2 linked regions of the Homo sapiens genome follow. The protein of the gene in region 1 interacts with the protein of each later gene in a pairwise test. Each region holds a gene or a part of one and is shown in the gene's direction. Other genes may lie near its edges. The genes, in order: HSFX2 and MAL2.

Region 1 (3,915 bases):
GGGTAAAAAAAGAGCTTTGATCTTCTCAGCCAGGAGAAGAGGGTGGTGTTTTCACGCGGGCAACTGCTCGCCGGCCTACATGGGGTTAATTCAAGTCTGCTGCGAGCACGACTCCGCCCTTGGCACTGGCCTCCAGCAAGCCCTGTTCTCTTTGGGGTACAGGGGAACGGGATGGTTTAGACTTTCCTGCTCAGTGTGTAAAAAATGTAGCTAAAGCCACTATTTTTGCTCTCCTTAAGCTGTTCAATAAACCGGTTCCTCATTTTACACGTGCATGATGTGTATCTTCTTTGCTGGATGGGCCAGGAAACTGGAGTGGTCCTCTCAGCCAGCCTCAGAGGAAAGAAATCTCTAGCTGGCACAGGCAGCCAGTGAGTGAGGCTGGCGGCTGCAGGGGCACAGCCTTTAGAATGAGTCCTTCAGTGCACAGGTCCCAGGGTATACGGGGTAGTGGGAGGAAGGAGGGGACGCCTCGCAGATGCCACTGTTGGCTGGGCTACACCTTGCCACACTTGTTACTGCTTAGGAGGCTTTCTGGAGTGTTCCTTGGGTGCTACGACAATCTGCAGCAGACACTGTCCTTTCACCGCTCCTGGTCCTCGTTTGCTCCCCAGTGATGTCAACAGCTGAGGACTGCTCACGCTGCAACAAAAGGCTCTGCAGTCGCTGTCTAGCTTGCCCTAGTCGTCTCTAGAGTTCTGCCTGAACTGAAACTCAAGTGGGGTTCAGCTCATGACTTGTGGCAATTGACCAGGAAATTCACCAGTTGCTGTGGCTGGAAGGATTTTCAGTCCTGTGGGTTGTAACCAGAGGCCACAGGTGGATTCTGCCTTAGGCTCATGAGATTTCCGACTTGCTGTTGAAGAAAATGCCTTGTGAAGTGACAACAGTAGCTCTGACCCAACTGCCGGTGCCTCGCTAGTTCCTATACGTCCCACTGGATCCTCACAGCCCCGGGAAGCAGGTGCTACTACTCTTATCCCCGGGAGGAGACAGAGGCCGAGAGAGGTTAAGTGACGTGCCCAAGTCACACAGCTCGGCAGCGGCCGGGTTGAGCATCAGCAGTCTGTTTGCAGACCCCTCACTGTCACCCCCTGAGCCAGTGCGCCTTGGGCCCTGCGGTCAGGATGTCTCAAGCGTGGAGGCATCACCGGTTCGTGGCAGTCTCTGGAAGGTCACTGAGCTCTGTGCCCAGAATCGAGTCGGGGGAGTCTGTGCAGAGGTGGCCCTGTGTGTGGGGACAGTGTGTGACACAGACACTGCTTTGGATGGACACCTCTCCCGTGACCTCCTAGCATCCAATCCCAAAGGAACAACTGTTGCAGAGATGGACCGCTGGACACAAACCCACGTGCGTTTCTCTGGAGACACTGGCCAAGGAAAACAAAACATGCTCGAAGGCCAACAGCTGCATGCCCCACCGCGATGTGACCGCAGACACCCGGGGTGTAGAAGGGTCTCTGCCTGGTGGGGGGACACGTGCAGGCCGAGGAGAGGCAGGAAGGAGGCTGCCTCCGACTCCCCACTGGACTGCATGGCGACGGCGTGTGGTGGGGCAGTCAGCTAAGCCATTTGCCTAAGGGGCTGTCGGGCATCTGCGTGCTGGGGACCGACAGTGTGGGTGTGTTAGGAGGATCTGTATGGAGCACATTGCTGCCTCTGGCTAGGACAGGGTGGAAAGGGTGGCGTGGCTACAGCCTGACCCATGGGCACCGTCCTACCCTTTGTTCTGTGCTTCCGAGTGTCAGTCATGTGCTGGGGTCTGTGGGCCCATGACTCAGACGGTGAGCTCTGACCTTCCTGAGCCAGGGCTTTGCTGTAGTTGTGCCTGGCTCAGGAGCTCTAGGACAAGGGGACCGCTCCAGGTCTGCATCTACGGTGTGGCAGGGCCCCTCGGCACTCTTGTGCACTAGTGTCATCTTTCCCATTGAAATGACTGTGAGGACCAGAATGTGCACATGCAGATGGGCAGCTACTTGTCTGCCTTGGCCCTTTATTACACAACTTGCTGGGGGTGGAGATGCCACCCCCCGGCAGTCAGAGCCCCTTTATGATGTCATGGGGCTGGTTACATGACTGCCAAGGGGTGCTGCTGGCCACACTGCACTAGCAAGTTTGCCAGATGGAGGACAAGCGATCATTGAGTATGGCTCGCTGTGAAGAAAGAAATTCGAGGGGACAGGATCATGGCTTGGAAAGGGTGCCTTTCCCTCCCCAGTTGCAGTCAGAGACCTACCTTCACCCAGCAGATCCTTCCCCTGCCTGGGACGACCCGGGGTCCACTGGGAGCCCTAACTTGAGGCTGCTGACAGAAGAAATCGCTTTCCAACCTCTGGCCGAGGAAGCTTCGTTCAGAAGGCCGCACCCTGACGGTGACGTCCCGCCCCAGGGAGAAGATAATCTCCTCTCCCTCCCCTTTCCACAGAAACTGTGGAGACTGGTCAGCAGCAACCAGTTTTCGTCCATCTGGTGGGATGACAGTGGGGCTTGTAGAGTGATCAATCAAAAACTCTTTGAAAAGGAGATTCTCAAAAGGGACGTCGCACACAAAGTGTTTGCCACAACTTCGATAAAGAGCTTCTTCCGCCAGCTAAACTTGTATGGCTTCCGAAAACGGCGTCAATGCACTTTCAGGACCTTCACCCGCATTTTCTCCGCAAAAAGGCTGGTCTCCATCTTGAATAAGGTAATGAACGACAAGCCTCTGGAGGGGTTAAGTCGGTGGGCTCTGGGGCCTGGTCGGGTGGAAGTCCCAGGACTGCCTCCTGGGAAGTGGGCGACCTCAGGCAGGGTGTGGGGCCATCGCTGTGGGCCTGTGTCCCCCTCTGGGTGGAGGTGACATGAACTAAGAGTGAATGTGGGGAGAGGGCTGAGGATGGTGCGGGCCCCTCTCGAGTGTGTAAAATATCACAGGTGCCAAGTAGCCGTATCTGCGTGTCGTCCTCCCCGGGGCCAGCCATGTCATCTGGCGGTTGCTGTGTCCCCCTGACTCCACAGCACATTACCCTGTGAGGTGAGCAGGCCAGGGGAGTCTGGTATTTGTACCACTGTCACCCTAGCTGGTGTCTGGAGAGGTGCTCAAGTGGAAGCACTGAAGGGCGCCTGGCGCAGGAGGTGCAGATGCTCCTGCTGCCCTTGGTAGGTGGGCCCCTGGTGTGGAAGAGCCAGTACCCAGGGCCTCCAACCCAGCCGGGGTGCATTCTGTTGCCAGCTGACACTGCATGGGGGAGGCCCAGAATCTTCTTCCCTCCTGGTCTGCAACTTCAAAGACCCTTTCCGCCGGCCATGGACACCCTAATCTGCCATTTTGAGGCTTTTTCCAAGACGGAAAGGCCCGCCACAACTTGGTAAACCTTGACGATGTGAACGCGAGTCCCCAGCTTCCTTTGGGGACTGGGACCTTTTCCAGAAAGGCCTCCTGGGCCAGTAGAGTTCTCTTGCACAGGGGCGTAGATGGTTGGTAGTTGTAGTCCATCCTTGTGACTTGCAGTTTCCTTTTGTTTATTTAAACTTTGACTTATAGTTAGAGTTCTACTGCCATCCTTACTTTCAAAGAGACTCCCCTCACCTCCTCGTGAGGATGAAGAGAAGAGTGGGTGTCAAGTCTGCACCAAGACATCAGGAGGAGGACAAGCCAGAAGCTGCTGGATCCTGTCTGGCACCAGCAGACACTGAGCAACAAGATCACACGTCTCCGAATGAGAATGACCAGGTCACACCGCAACACCGGGAACCGGCCGGTCCCAACACCCAAATCAGGAGTGGCTCTGCTCCACCAGCAACTCCTGTGATGGTGCCTGATTCCGCCGTGGCGAGTGACAACAGTCCAGTGACCCAGCCGGCCGGCGAGTGGTCAGAGGGCAGCCAGGCTCACGTCACTCCGGTGGCCGCTGTCCCTGGGCCTGCAGCGCTGCC
Region 2 (3,815 bases), on another chromosome or scaffold:
CTTATGTGTATGTCATTTCTCATTACATCCCAGAATTTGTTCTGTTTTCCTAACTAACTAAATAAATAAACACCTTGCTGCCTTGCATCTCTAATGCAGGTCTATGCCAGGGCCAGTCCAGAAGCAGTTTGGACAGAAGTCAGCATGGTTAGAGGACAGATGGGGACTGATGAGGGGAGCAGGAGGCACTGGAAGAAGGCACAAGATTTACCCTGGTCAAAAGTTCCAGTGGCAGTTACAATAGAAATAGGTCATGTGGGCAAATTTGGGGCCGAAAAAAGATTTAAAATTGGGTGTCATGAATTCAACTGGCAAGAGGTACAAAGTTTCCCATAACTTTCCATCTCAGCCTCCTGAGATCTGGTACTAGGTGGTGGGTGTCACCAATAATAACTTGAGAATTGAGAAGTACATATTCTCGCTTCACTCGTTTTCATGCCTATTTTTGGACATCCACCATGAACCAGGGAGTGAGCTGGGCTCCAGACCGGAGTGTGTTCCTAGCATCCCAAGCTGCACTCCTAGAGCATTCTCTTTTGGAACCATTCATTACACATGCCGGTTGGTTTCCATTCATTTCAAGGAGGATGGATTGAGGACCTTCTGTAGAAAGCACCACCCTGGGTAATGAGCATACGGAGATGTTGAAGGCAATGTCACCGACTCTGACGTCACAGTCTAGTGGGTGAAATGGGCATGTAGATCCATGATTTTGATCCAGTTGTAATTGCTGTGGAGAATACACGCGTCAGTAACCGTGGAAGCACCGAGGGATGGCACCTGGCCAGGGAAGTCTTTCTGGAAAACATGGTAACTGGAGTTTAGTTATGCAGCAGAATTTTTACTGGCAGCATGCTAGGCAGAAACATGGTCAAGTGTGATCATTTCTCTATGCTCAGGGGATGAGGGGTAGAGGCTGGAATGCAAAGAGAGGGTGGTAGGAAAAGAAGCATTACAGGGAAGATGATGAGCTTGGGGAGGGGGGCAGCAGTATGCCTTGTAGTGGTACCAGTGATCTACAGTCGCATTGTGAATGAATCCATACTTGTGTGGGCTGCTTTGTAAATACATCTACCAGTTATATTGTATGTGTTGGCTAAGTATGTTTCTAGTTTAAGGAAATCTTTCAAAATGCGAATTGTATGTAAAATATAGCTAATTGTAGATAATCTTTTTTTTTCTAGCTGATAAATTTCTGAATATACTGAACACTTCTATAACCATGATGTTTCCTGTGCAGCACCCCATAAGTAAACATCCATTAAAATAGAAGGGGTTACAAGTAGATAAAGTGTTCTGAACTTCTGGGTGGGGGGGCCACATACCCCTTTGTGATTCTGATGAAAGGTGTGGACTGTGTCCTCAGAAAAATGCATATGTACTTGTCCACCCAATTTTATATGATTTTAGGAAATCATATGGAATATGGGTAGAAACCCTGCTTTAGAATGAACACTAAACCATGAGAGGGGCAGAATAGCAGAATGTTAAAATCATAAGTTCTGGAAGCCAATTGCCAAGTTCAAATTTCAGGTCTAACACTTATTAACTATATAACTAGGAACAAGTTATGAATGGATTTGTACCTCAATTAACTTACCTATAAAGTAGGAATAATAATGTTGTCTCTCAAGGTCTGTGAGGATTAAATTGGCACAAATAAAACCCTTATAACGGTGCTTATAACATAAGAGCTCAGTAAATGTTAAGTACTATTTCTGCTATCACCATTAGCTTCAACTTCTTACTCTAACTCTACAAGCCAGACTGGAAGACAAATATTTTTTTGCTTTTCCTCTATGTTTGCTGGGTGTTCATTCTCACTGCAGTAGAATAATGAATTATCCAATATATAGATAATAGAATTAGAAGGAGGGAGCTTAATACGGAAAGTTCTAAATAGTGTTTTCCCTTATGGGTAGTTTAGCCAGCCTTTATCCTTTCAAATTCACTTACCTTTTCCTGTTCTCATTCCAAACATTAATTGAAAATAGGTCACAGTAGAAATTAGCCGGTTTACTTTGTGGGTATACTAAGATGGAGGTGTCAAATTGGTTTGAAAAAATTTTTAGCTGTCAGAGGGTATGTTTAAAAGCAGGTAATTAGGAAATAAGTGACATTTGAAAAGAAAAAGGGCATTTGCAAAAGGAACCCTTTGGGAACATAAGACCGTCCAAACAGGAGATGAGTTAAGAATCTGTAATTCATGCACCCAGAATTGCAAGAGTTGCTACTTGCTCAAGAGCATGTTTTCCCGTGGGACTATGTATTTTTCCCATTCCACAGTTTCTAGTGAAAACATGTCTTCACATCAAACCCTGAGGATTCAGTTTAGTGTGATTTGTGGATAAATACTTCCGTGGTTTTCTTATGGTAGGGTTTCAGCCAAGTCATACCTTTCTGGTCTGCAGAGACCAAGCAAACATAACAAACATGTGTTAAACCAGAAAGAAGATCAGTTGTTTTAGGAATGTGTAGCAATTTAATAACTGCAACTCAGAATATATTTGAGTACTTCTGGTATGTACCCAGTACACCTAAAGTTGGGTTAAGAAGATAAAAGGTGACTGAGTCACCGGGAGATGCTGATACCTACTCCTAGGAGGTTTTTACCTTTGTATTGCCTGGAAGCAAAGGTAGTCTTTTTGTTAGAGCTTGAGGTTTGACGTCATAAGCACTGACTTAGTTTCTTAAAGAAATTTCAAATTGAGGTGCCTTTGGCTATTTTATACATAATTATTGGATTTTTTAGAACACTAGAAAGCAGTGGAAGGCAGTGGCAGGGAAGGGGTCAGAATATGGATTCAGATCCAAGACGATGAGAATAACGTGGGCGAAACATATAATAGTTCCGAATACCTTTCTTCACAGTGTGTACTCTGCAGTTGCTACTGTATTTATCATCTGTTCTCTGTCAGATTTAACCATTTTTGTGTTCTGCTTTTTACTTCTAAAAATATGGCCACCTCCAGAGTCGTCTCTACTGAACAGGAATGCTGATAATTACACCGTTTTGCAAACACTCTAAGCTCACTAATGCCCGGAATTAGAGGAAGTGAATATACTGAGCATTGGTCATCTCAATTTTTTAAGTTCAGTTTTTTAACTTAAAAAAACTGGAGCCAAGTTTAAGTTGGAGCCAAGTTGGGAAGCTCAAGAAGAAAAGTAGCTTTTGTCAAAAGGAAATCACAAAGTAGGGAATAATAACTGTGTCAAGGCCAGAGTGATCCATACACCAGTATGACAGTCTCAAAATGAGGATGGTGGCCCTCCAAAGTGGGCTCAATTATGTTCTCTGGCCCATCCTCTCTCTTCCAAAGCGAGCCTGGATTTCACAGAATCTCAGCTCTAGGGATGTATCATATGTATTTACTTGAGTGAGAGAGAGGGGGCATTCCTACACTCCTTCCCTCTCCCCTTTCCATGCAGCACATACCCCACAAGTGAGGAGGTGAATCTGACTCCTGTTCATGCAGCATTTAGTTTCCCTTCCAAGCCTTTGAGGTGTTTGAAGGGCTGTAATTTTGAGTACGATAAGAACGGTTAGTCTATACTATTTTACAGTATAGCCTCTGCTGTCAAAGCCTTGGTCTGTCTTGAAAGCTTACTCTGAAGCCTGCCTCCCCTGCCTACCTTTCCAGATTCTTCCCATTATATTTCTTCTCTCCTCTCCCCTCCCAGCCTCTCAGAACACACTGTGTTGAGCTCTTTTTATAGCACCCACCGCAATCTGCTCCTGAATCAGTTTAATAGTGTCTATTTCTTCCTTATTTCAAGCTCCTGGAGATGGAACCTTGCCTTTTTTGTTTTTTCTT

The links.
Region 2: the proteins of HSFX2 (region 1) and MAL2 interact in binary tests that used the Homo sapiens proteins (3 or more experiments, as listed by UniProt).

Annotation. Positions count from the first base shown.
Region 1 is NC_000023.11:149,592,908-149,596,822, reverse strand, and holds the start of HSFX2 (heat shock transcription factor, X-linked), read left to right. Parts: upstream 1-1,508; 5' UTR 1,509-2,122; coding exon 2,123-2,686; intron 2,687-3,523; coding exon 3,524-3,915.
Region 2 is NC_000008.11:119,214,830-119,218,644, forward strand, and holds part of MAL2 (protein MAL2), read left to right. Parts: exon of another isoform or gene 1-798; intron 799-3,815. UniProt on the Homo sapiens protein: Member of the machinery of polarized transport. Required for the indirect transcytotic route at the step of the egress of the transcytosing cargo from perinuclear endosomes in order for it to travel to the apical surface via a raft-dependent pathway.